Homo sapiens: one gene and its partners. The protein of the gene in region 2 purifies or fractionates together with the protein of the main gene of each other region. This does not show direct contact. Each region holds a gene or a part of one and is shown on either strand. Other genes may lie near its edges.

Region 1 (3,727 bases), on a different chromosome or scaffold from region 2:
ATGACTGGCCATTGGCTCAGTGTCACCTGGGTGATGGGGATGAGCTGGCCCAGTGCAGCCATCATCCAGCAAGCTAGCTGAAGCTTGTTTGTGTGGTGGTGGTGCAGGGTTCCCAAGATCAGTCAGAGAGGACAGGGCAAGTTCAAGCCTTTGTTTGTGTAATGTCACTGATGTCCTAATGGACAAAGCAAGTCATACGACCAAAACCAAAGTCACTGTAGGGAAGGGATTCCTTAAGGGAGAGGAATGCAGGGAGCCATTTTTGCAAACGGTTGGTCGTAGGATTGGATGAAGCAAGTTGTCGTGAAGGTATGGGCATTGTGAACATGGGTGTTGGGGGCTGTCTCTCTTTCCTTTTGGACTGTCAGCCTGAGGGCAGGGCCTGCCCTGCTGCATCTGGAGGGCTCCATCTTGCAGTACATGGTGATGGCTGGTCCAGGTATTACCCACCTTCCTCCAGATGTTGCATCACCCCACCCCAGGTGTGACCCTCGCCAAGATGTTAGTAATGTTTGCTCCCACGTTCTCACATGCTCATATCCCCCTCGTCCATTACATGCTACCCCAGGTGCCTGAGAGTCCAGGGGCTCTCCCCAGGCTGGACACGCGAAGAAGGCTCTAAACCCTTCCTATTGATGTAGCTGATTCTTTCCTTCCGTCTCTGCTTTCTCTTTCATAAAATGTAAATTCATCTGTCTTCTTTGATTTTATAATCTGAGTTTCTTCTCTGTTTTCCCCCTACATCCCCAATGTAGCTTTTCATCCCCACCATCTCTGCCTCTCTTCTGTCTCAGTTTTCCTTTCTTCTTCTCTCTTTCCCTCCCCACCCCCATCTCTCTTCCTCATCTTGCACTCACACACACACATACAGGTCATGATTCTGCCACTCCAATGGCTTAAAAATTTCCCCCAGATTCCCTAAAGCCTCCTGAGAGTGGCAGAGGATTCTAGGGGGTGGGAGAGTGAGAGAAGGGTTGAGCAGGTGGGATTTGGGCCCCTGTTCCAGCTTGAATGACGACAGCCGCTCAGCTTTGATCTGTTTGCTATCTTAGGCTTCCACACACAATGTTGTGTGGCAGAGGTTTCACTGCCCAAAGGAAAAGTTCAAACAGTTTTTGTGTAACACAGCAGAGCTCATGACAGGCTTAGAGTCAACCAGTCTGCTGAGATTAGAGGAGTCTCAGGAGAGCCAGGGCCAACAGCTTTAAGCAGCTGTCTGTGCATTGCATATCAAACTGGCGTGCAGTCTCCCAGGCAAATAGGACAAGCGTTGGCGGTGGGAGGGTGTGGCTAGGAAGGAGAGATGCCCAGCATCTGGGCACAGCATAGAGCGTGTGGCTGGCAGTGAGGTCCACAGCTGGCACAGTGGTATGAGGACAATGACTCATTCTGGGTAAACGTCAAGAGACGAAGCAGCTACAAAGAGCCAGGCTCCTGGAAAATTAGGCAAGGTACGCTTTGGACAGAAACTGTGAGAGCTTCTTCTTGTGGTTCCTGTAGTCTATAACTGCTTTCTCAGGGCTTGGGGTGTGAGAGAAAGACACGTGCTACTCAGGCCTAGAGTGAAGACCAGGACCACGCCTACCATTGATCACAGTTCATGGTTGCCGAAGAACAGATTTAATTGTACCCAGGGCTGTGCACTGCCAATGCTGGCTTGTTTCTGTGTTATTGGCAGCAATTTTATGGAACCGGCTGATTCGACTTTAAAAGAAACTTGTCCTGGAAAGGGCCTTTAAGAGAGTACATTGTCAAGTGTTTCTTTTTTTGAGACAGAGTCTTGCTCTGTCACCCAGGCTGGAGCACAGTGGTGCAATCTTCGCTCACTGCAACCTCTGCCTCCCGGGTTTAGTGATTCTTCTGCCTCAGCCTCCCTGAGTAGCTGGGACTATAGGCGTGCACCACCACGCTTGGCTAATTTTTGTATTTTCAGTAGAGACAGGGTTTTGCCATGTTGGCCAGGCTGGTCTCGAACTCCTGACCTCAGGTGATCCACCCGCCTTGGCCTCCCAAATTGCTGGGATCACAGGCGTGAGCCACCGCGCCTGGCCTGTCAAGTGTTTCTTATCCTCTCCTGGACTGCAGACCTCTTTGGAATCCTACTGACTGCTCCTTTCACAATCCCCCAAAGCATATTCACCTCAAAGACTTTGCAGACAGTTATATGAGATCATGGTTGGTCCTGAACCTCGTCCTTAGAACCCTTTTCAGGTCAAGAAGTTATGATTTAGACCAGTTACCTCATTTTATACATAAGGAAACCGAGGCACAGCGAGGATAAGCAGTTTATTCAGGGTTTCACAGATAATCTGTGACAGAGCTGGGTGTTAGTCCTAGGTAGCAATTAACTGTAGAGTCAGAAATGCATTTGAATCCTGGCTCCCCCTCCTATCTCTTACCAACTCTGCAATTTAGGCAAGATACATAATCTTGTGCCTCAGTTTCCTCATCTGCAAAATGGAGATAACAATAGTGCCTACTTTGTGGGGAGTGCTGTGATTATAGGACAAATATGTGAGGAATTTAGAACCAATATCTTAATAAATAAATTGTAGCCCTTTTGTTTTGTTTTGTTTACAATCGTGAACCAGAGACAGATGTAGCTCTTATAGGTTCTATGTATTATTTTAAGAGCAGAGATACAAGTTGATTTTTTAGCCTGTACTTCTGGCTTAAGTGCAAGTTCCAACTGCAAGAACAAAGAACTGCCACTACCTAGCATTTTTTTTTTTTTTTGTAAATCAAGTAGAACTTATGGTACTGAAATATATGTGGTGATAACACCAATGTCTTAGCTTTTGTGGTTATTATCTGGGAATTTGCAGCTGCTCTTTATGAACTCACACATCTCTTTCCAAAGAGTGTATTGGTTAGCTTTTGCTGTGTAACAATGTGCTGTATTCATACCCTGAAATGTAGTGGCTTAAAACAATGGTCATTTACAGCCAAGTGTGATGGCTCACACCTGTAATCCCAGCACTTTGGGAAGCTGAGGCAGGCGGATCGTCTAATGTCGGGAGTTTGAGACCAGCCTGGCCAACATGGTGAAACCCTGTCTCTACTAAAAATACAAAAATTAGCTGGGCATGATGGTGGGTGCCTGTAATCCCAGCTACTTGGGAGGCTGAGGCAAGAGAATCACTTGAACCCAGGAGGTGGAGGTTGCAGTGAGCCAAGGTTGCACCATTGTACTCCAGCCTGGGCAACAAGAGCAAAACTCTGTCCCAAACAAACAAACAAACACCGATCATTTATTCACTCTTGTTTTGCTTGGCAATTTGGCTGGTTGCTTGGTAATTTGGGCTGAGTTCAGCTGGGTGCCTCTTCTGCTGGGTTTTTGAGCTTACTCATGTGGCCACAGCCAGCTGGAAGATTGGCTGGAGCTGGATGGTCTCTGGGATGGCCTCACTCACATGAATGGCTATTGGCCACTCATGTAGGGTGCCTTGGTTCTCCTCCATGGGCCTTCTCTAGCAGGCTAGCTTGGACTCATTCCCATGGTATTTGGAGAGCTGCCAGGAAAAGCAAGAGAGGGCAGGCCAACCTCAATGTTCAACCATTTTTCAAGCCTCTGCTTGTGTCATGTTTGCTAATGTCCTGTTAGCAAGGCACATGGTCAAGCCCTGATTCAGAAGACAGAGGAGGAGGCCCCACCTATTGATGGGAAGAGCTCCCTAATATTGTGGCTGTTTTCCCCCAGTATTCCACATGGAAGTTTAAATAAACA
Region 2 (3,727 bases):
CACACTTCCCACATAACACATACGCCCATGATCGTTCACACTTGGTCAAGTCCACTCTGTAAACCAGGAAATTTCCTTCAAAAAATCAGGAAATTCCCTCTCAGTGTCAGATCCCTGAGCTCAACGTTATTTTGCCATTTTTAGTGGTGTCATTATCATTCACATAAGGTAGTAACGTTAAAAAATTTCCTATAACAAAACAGAAATATCATAACTCTAGAAAGCAATTGCCTTACTAGAATTTTGAGTTGGACATAAAACAAGGGAATGAATAAAATAGAAAACTCATAAAATTCTCATCATTTTAAGCGTCTATATTCACTCCTTTTCAGAGAACCCAATGCCTCCCAAGCCTTTTTAAAATCTTAAATTCTCTCTTTCCCTCACTGAGATCACAGTATGATGGAATATGTCTGAGGGTACAGAGGACACCCCCAGACTCATATCCCAGGAATCACCACACAGTTCCAAAGCATTTGGCCAATGCTTTATGATGTTAACCCAAAGCCTCTCTTCATCTGCATGCCTCATGAAATCCAGTGAGAGAAAGCTCATGATTTACTGTGTCAAAAATGAAACAGAACATCAGCCTGAAATAAAACCAAAGAAAACAAAAGGAAATAAAGTAGAGTTAGCCTCCATTCCTTATATAAGAAAAAAACTATAAGACTTACCTGGGCTGTGTCAGGAGCATGGGGTCTGGGTTTCAGTCTAGTATCAAGAAAGCCCCCTGGAGGAGGCATCTTGCTTGGGATGCTGTTGTAGTATGGGTGGTCTGAGCCATCTCCCTCCTCTTCCGTCCATGGCTCATCCAGACTCTGCATTCTGTTAAAGGAAGATTTCCAAGGGCTTTAGCCAAAAGTTGAACTTGCAGCCAAAATCAACAAATCTAATGTTAGCGCCTGTTATTAAGAAAAGAGAGTTTAGTCAGTGCCTCCTCAGCCATCCAGGTCTCATGCATAGATGAAAAGCAGATGAGTGGTTTAGCAAAATATCTCTGCCATATTCAGAGTTTCACTCATTGGAACATTTCAATCATGTTTGAAGGATGTCCTTTTGTAAAAGTACATTTTAATTAAAAAAGAAATTATGCCTAAGGATAGCCAGCTCCTCAAGGGACAGCACACATTTTTGTAAGCCATGAAATTGATCCCAAACAAAACCAACTACAAAATGGAAATTTAGTGATATGAGGGAAAATGGTAGAATATGAACCTCTCAAAATTCTCCCTTCTGCTATTTGAAAAAACTGTTGTGCTTCAAAGGACATTATCAAGAAAGTAAAAATACAAACTACAAAATGGGAGAAAATATTTGCTAACATGTATCTTAAATGAGACATGTATCTAGAATATATAAAGTACTCGTACGACTCAACAATGAAAAGACAACCCGATCTTAAAAATGAGCTGAGGATTTGAGCAGACTTTTCTCCAGAGATACACAAAAAGCCAATACATGCATGAAAAGTTCCTCAACATCGTTAGTCATCAGGAAAATGCATATCAAAACCACAACCAGAGACCACTTCATGCCCACTAGGGTAGCTATAATCAAAGAGATGGACAAGAAAAAGTGTTGATAAGAACGTGGGGATATTAGAACCCTCACACATTGCTCATGGGACTGTAAAATGGTGCAGCCACTTTAGAAAATAGCTTTGCAGTTTCAGCATAACCATATGACCACAGAATTTCACTCCCAGGTATATACATAAGAATATTGAAACATATGTCCATAAGGAAACTTGTATACATCTTTACAGTAGCATTGTTCATAAGAGCTAAAAGGTAGGGCCGGGCGCAGTGGCTGATGCCTGTAATCCCAGCATTTTGGGAGGCCAAGGCGGGCAGATCATGAGGTCAGGAGTTCAAGACCAGCCTGAGCAATATGGTGAAACCCTGTCTCTACTAAAAATACAAAAATTAGCCAGGCGTGGTGGCACACACCTGTAGTTCCAGCTACTCGGGAGGCTGAGACGAGAGAATTGCTTGAACCCGGGAGGTGGATGTTGCAGTGAGCTGAGATCGTGCCACTGCATTCCAGCCTGGGCAATGGAGTAAGACTCCATTAAAAAAAAAAAAAAAAGGTAGAAGTACCCAACTGTCCATAAACTAATGACTGGATGAACAAAAGGTCATATACCTATACACTCAAATATTATTAAGAACTCTAAAATGAAAGAAATACTGACAGATCCTACAACATGAGTGAATCTTGAAAACATTCTTCTAAGTGAAAGAAGCCAGATACATACAGTATGATTCCATTTATATGAAATGTCCAGAATGGGCAAATCCATAGAGACAGAAAGTAGATTAGTGGTTGGTGGAAGAGTGGGGAGTGGAGAATGGGGAGTAATTGCTGATGAGTATAGAGTTTCTTTGGGGGGTAATGAAAACGTTCTGGAATTAATGGTGATAATTGTACTTTTGAATATAACAAATCAACTGAACTGTAAACTTTAAAAGAGCAATTTGATTATATATGAATTATCAATTTTAAAAATAATAATAAATGGAGTCTTAGTGGCATCTGATTTGTTTTTCAGTGTCCCCAGAGAATGGGGCTGGAACAGCTGGATGCAGTGTGGGTTCTCTCATGTTCCCAGGCTGCACCCTGCTGGAGGAGCGGAGCTGAAACGGAAGGCAGGGCAAGCTCAGGAGATCCCCGTCACCCCGCTCTCGGATAGTACCCTGCGGGACACCAGGAGCCTCTGCAGGATAAGGTGAGGGGGGTGTCAGGTCACCGACAGTATGAAGCTACAGGCAGGGCCCCTTGTCACTGCTCTGCTTTAGAAATGATATGCCGGCCGGGCACGGTGATTTACGCCTGTAATCCCAGCACTTTGGGAGGCCGAGAGGGGCGGATCACGAGGTCAGGAGATCGATACCATCCTGGCTAACACGGTGAAATCCCATCTCTACTAAAAATACAAAAAATTAGCCGGGCGTGGTGGCAGGCGCCTGTAGTCCCAGCTACTCAGGAGGCTGAGGCAGGAGAATGGCGCGAACCCGGTAGGTGGAGCTTGCAGTGAGCCAAGATCGCGCCACTGCACTCCAGCCTGAGTGACAGAGCCAGACTCCCTCTTAAAAACAAAACAAAACAAAACAAAACAAAACAAAACCAGAAATGATATGCCAATACTTGCATTTGGAGGCGACATTTTTCTCAGTGGATAAGATCCTGTCTACTACATTTTCTTTCCCCAAAAGTCCTTCAAACTTCACTACATACAAACACATACAGAACTTCATACATTATGTACACTGCCAGAGAAGTATGGTAGTTAAACTAACTCCCTCCATTCATTTTTGTGTGTATTATCTTAATAGCATTTATTTGGCTTTTATTCAACATTTCAGAAACAAAGGCTAGCATAATAATTAATATGAAATATACTTATGCATCCCCCATGGAGATTAAATAAGTGTTAACCTTTTGATCTATTATGTTAAATCAAGTTTAGCCTAAAGCTACCTCCTTACGTATTTAAATTTGGCCTAAAGGTTTCTCTGTAAATCCTGAACTATACAAGTGGAGGTGTAAACAGACTGTAGCCTACTCTTGTGCCAATCACCGAGTTTTGGCCAATCAAATGCGGCCAACTGTTCCAACTGTGTTCAAATAAGGCAAACGCCGAGCTGTAACCAATCCAGCTATTTCTGAACCTCACTTCCATTTTCTGTAAGTCATTTTCCTTTTTCTCTCCATAAATCTTCTTCCA
Region 3 (3,500 bases), on a different chromosome or scaffold from region 2:
TTTGTCATGTGTAAGTTACATGATCTTACGACAATTCTTCATCTTGCTGAACTGTGGGTTTTTTGTTTGTTTTGTAAGCTGAAGAGGTGGACAAATTATCTTCTGACATTTTAGAAAGTGATTTTCACAAAATGAAAATAATGAAGTGGTGGATAAATCTCATTTATCCGAAAACTTTATAAATGTGGAATCCTCTGACCACATGCCAGAGGAGGTATGGTTTCCCCAGGCTTCCATTGGAATATGTGAGTTCAAAGGTTCCAGTAGAGTTTCCAGCCTTTTGTGCAAGCTCTGGGTTCCAGCCACTTCGAGGGGAAGCCCTGCCCTGCCCTCTGCTTCCCTTGGCTGTCCCATCCCCTCCAACTACTGTGGGGCCAATAACTCTTCCCCTTGAGCTGGTCTGCCACCCCTTATCCTCCTAACTGAGGGAGAGCAGCCTCTCTTCTCCTCCATTTAACCCATTTAGGGTGCAATTTTTTTTAAGAGATAGGGTCTTGCTTTGTTGCCCAGGCTGGTCTCAAACTGCTGGTCTCAAGTGATTATCCCTCCTTGGCCTCCCAAAGTGCTGGGATTACAGGTATGGGCCACTGTGCCCAGTAGGGAGTGACTTTTGTATAGGTAGTTTCTAGAAAACACAGATGGTAGCAAACATGTAAGTCTCCCAAAGAGAAAGCAAATCCTGGAATCACCCCAAACAGAGTTGATCTAAGGTCTCTCCATGCAGGGGTATGGCCTCTGCCTGGTCCCCTTTCTTTTACTCACTCTAGGCAGCTTTGCTCTCTGGAGCAGGGAGGAACTGCTCAGTGGCTAGTTGTCCCTCCACCATGTCTGAAGCCCCCTGCTCAGCGCCCCAGTGGCATCTCCCTCAACATGGTTCCAGGGGCCTCCAGCAATTCTGGGGTGGACTCTCCCACCAAAGTGAAGGCTCCCCAAATAAACACCATGCTCCCAGCCCCCCAGGCACACATTCCTGGTCCCTGCATATCCACTCCTCCTGCCCAGGTGGAGCCAGCTTTTTGGGTGGGCACAGCCCATTGTCAGCTGCCGTTGACCTCGTCAACAAGGCCGACTGAGTTACCTGTGGCTACTCTCATCGGCCCATCGCCAGCCTAAGGACAAAGGGTAAGGCCTGGGAAGATGTCCAAAGGCATGTATGGATAACAGAGATAGAGGCCAGAGAACGCCCAGGGGCAGGCAGGACATCAGAAGGCCATCATGTCCACCTTCTCAGCTTACAGATAAGAAAACCAAAGTGCAGGCAGATTAAGGGATTTTTCTGAAAGTCATTCCCAGAATTAATTAGTGAGAGAGCTGGAGCCAGACCTATGCCTCCCTTACTAATACGTTCATCACATGCCCAAGAGGATGCTGCTTCCAGAATCTCCAGAAAAAAGACCACGATACCCCCGAGAACTCATCCCGGATGCAGTACAACTGATATTGTGCCTCCTCCCTGGGTTCCAGTTTCCTTATATAGAAAAGTGATCTGCCGGGCACAGTGGCTCACACCTGTAATCCCAGCACTTTGGGAGGCCGAGGTGGGTGGATCACGAGGTCAGGAGTTTGAGACCAGCGTGGCCAACGTAGTGAAACCCTGTCTCTACTAAAAATACAAAAATTAGCTGGGCATGGTGGCGCGTGCCTGTACTCCCAGCTACTCGGGAGGCTGAGGCAGGAGAATCGCAGAATCGCTTGAACCCGAGAGGCGGAGGTTGCGGTGAGTCAAGATCGCGCCACTGCACTCCAGCCTGGGCAACAGAGCGAAACTCCATAAAAGGAAGGAAGGAAGGAAGGAAGGAAGGAAGGAAGGAAGGAAGGAAGGAAGGAAGGAAGGAAGGAAGGAAGGGAGAGAGAAAAGTGATGTACGGGAGGGATGGTCTGTTGGGTTCCTCTCAGCTCCAACATGTAAGGTTTCTGTGACCCTCTCCCTTGCAGCCAACACCATGTTCCCAGAAAGGGGTTCTAAGTCCTGGGGCTTCAAGTATAGCCTGGGGTCCCTGCTGGGTCAGTGCCCACCCTGAGGGTGTGTGCGTGCCCTGGGCTGCCCCAGAGCATAGGCCTGAGCCCTGTGGGTCTAAACCATCTCTGTCCGTCCCTCAACCTCAGTGTGCTCCTTATTCGTTGTCTCTTTCCTCCACAGTGTGTCTCTCTTTCCCCATCTTTGTCCCCTGTGCTCTGCCTGGACCTCTTGGGGGCTGCCAGCGAAGGTCTTCTCACCATCACCGTGGCTGACTGCTCCAGCTCTGTGAGGATCCAGCCGGCCTGCTCCAGGCCCCGCCCCTCCACCTGGCACCGCAGCAGCACGTCGTCCCCCACATCCACCGAGGCATTGGGCACCTGGACCTTCAGCGTGGGCACACCTGGCCACCCAGGACGCCCGAGGGCCAAGGGGTGTTAGAGCTGGGAGTGGCCCCAGAACTCTACTGCGGGGCTGCTCCTTCCCCCACCCTCCTCAATGACCTGGAGCCCAGGCGATGTCACCCCAGGCAGTTTCCCCCAGCCTTTGCCAGTGCCCATTCCCCAGGCCTTTTCAGTGCTTGCTCAGTGCCCTCTCCCTCAGGCAGGTAGGTCTCTTCCCCAGCCCCCTTACACCACCTCCCTCACCCGGCACCTACCACAGCTGGCATTGGGCATGTGGGCCAGGGGCCCTTGCCCATGACACTGCAGCTTCTGTTCAGGCACTCCGCCCAGTCCCTCCTCCTCCCAGCGCTGTAGCCAGCGCAGGGCACAAGAACAGTGCAGAGGGTTCCCCGACAGGACCCTGGGGGGCATGGGGGACACCAACAGAGTCAAGGAAAGGGCCTGAGGGATCACAGGGGATAAGAGGGAGCAGTTAGGCAGCAGGGAGGACCGTCTACAGGTGAAAGGGAGGACACAGAGGTCTTTCTCTCTGACTCCAGTAACAGGATGTTATTCAAAGAAATAGGCCATTGGGAGGCCGAGGCGGGCGGATCACAAGGTCAGAAGATCGAGACCATCCTGGCTAACACAGTGAAACCCCGTCTCTACTAAAAATGCAAAAACTTAGCCAGGCATGGTGGCGGGCACCTGTAGTCCCACCTACTCAGGAGGCTGAGGCAGGAGAATGGCGTGAACCCAGGAGGCGGAGCTTGCAGTGAGCCGAGATGAGATTGTGCCACTGCACTCCAGCCTGGGTGACAGAGCGAGACTCCGTCTCATAAAAAAAAAAAAAGAAAAGAAAAGAAAAGAAAGAAAGAAAAGAAAAGAAATAAGCCAGGCGCTGTGACTCACACCTGTTATCCCGGCACTTTGGGAGGCCGAGGCGGAGGATGGCTTGAGCCCAGGAGTTCAAGATCAGCCTGGGCAACATGGCAAAACCCCAACTCTACAAAAAGAAAAAATAACGTAAAAATGAAAGAAATCTAATGCAGAAAGTGGAAGACAAGACAGCTGACGTCTGAGGGATGCATGGGGCTCCCTCACCCCAGGCTCCCCAGGATGAGAAACCAGGCAAGGGCTCTCAGCATGGTGACAAGGAG

What was found.
Region 1: the proteins of SHC3 (region 2) and ZAP70 purify together in Homo sapiens (affinity purification with western blotting, with the first as the bait; one study listed by BioGRID). This does not show direct contact.
Region 3: the proteins of SHC3 (region 2) and NTRK1 purify together in Homo sapiens (affinity purification with western blotting; 2 studies listed by BioGRID, with this or other methods). This does not show direct contact.

Annotation. Positions count from the first base shown.
Region 1 is NC_000002.12:97,727,002-97,730,728, forward strand, and holds part of ZAP70 (tyrosine-protein kinase ZAP-70), read left to right. Parts: intron 1-3,727. UniProt on the Homo sapiens protein: Tyrosine kinase that plays an essential role in regulation of the adaptive immune response. Regulates motility, adhesion and cytokine expression of mature T-cells, as well as thymocyte development.
Region 2 is NC_000009.12:89,046,170-89,049,896, forward strand, and holds part of SHC3 (SHC-transforming protein 3), read right to left. Parts: intron 826-3,727; coding exon 675-825; intron 1-674. UniProt on the Homo sapiens protein: Signaling adapter that couples activated growth factor receptors to signaling pathway in neurons. Involved in the signal transduction pathways of neurotrophin-activated Trk receptors in cortical neurons.
Region 3 is NC_000001.11:156,867,365-156,870,864, reverse strand, and holds part of NTRK1 (high affinity nerve growth factor receptor isoform 2 precursor), read right to left. Parts: intron 2,762-3,500; coding exon 2,616-2,761; intron 2,361-2,615; coding exon 2,218-2,360; intron 1-2,217. UniProt on the Homo sapiens protein: Receptor tyrosine kinase involved in the development and the maturation of the central and peripheral nervous systems through regulation of proliferation, differentiation and survival of sympathetic and nervous neurons.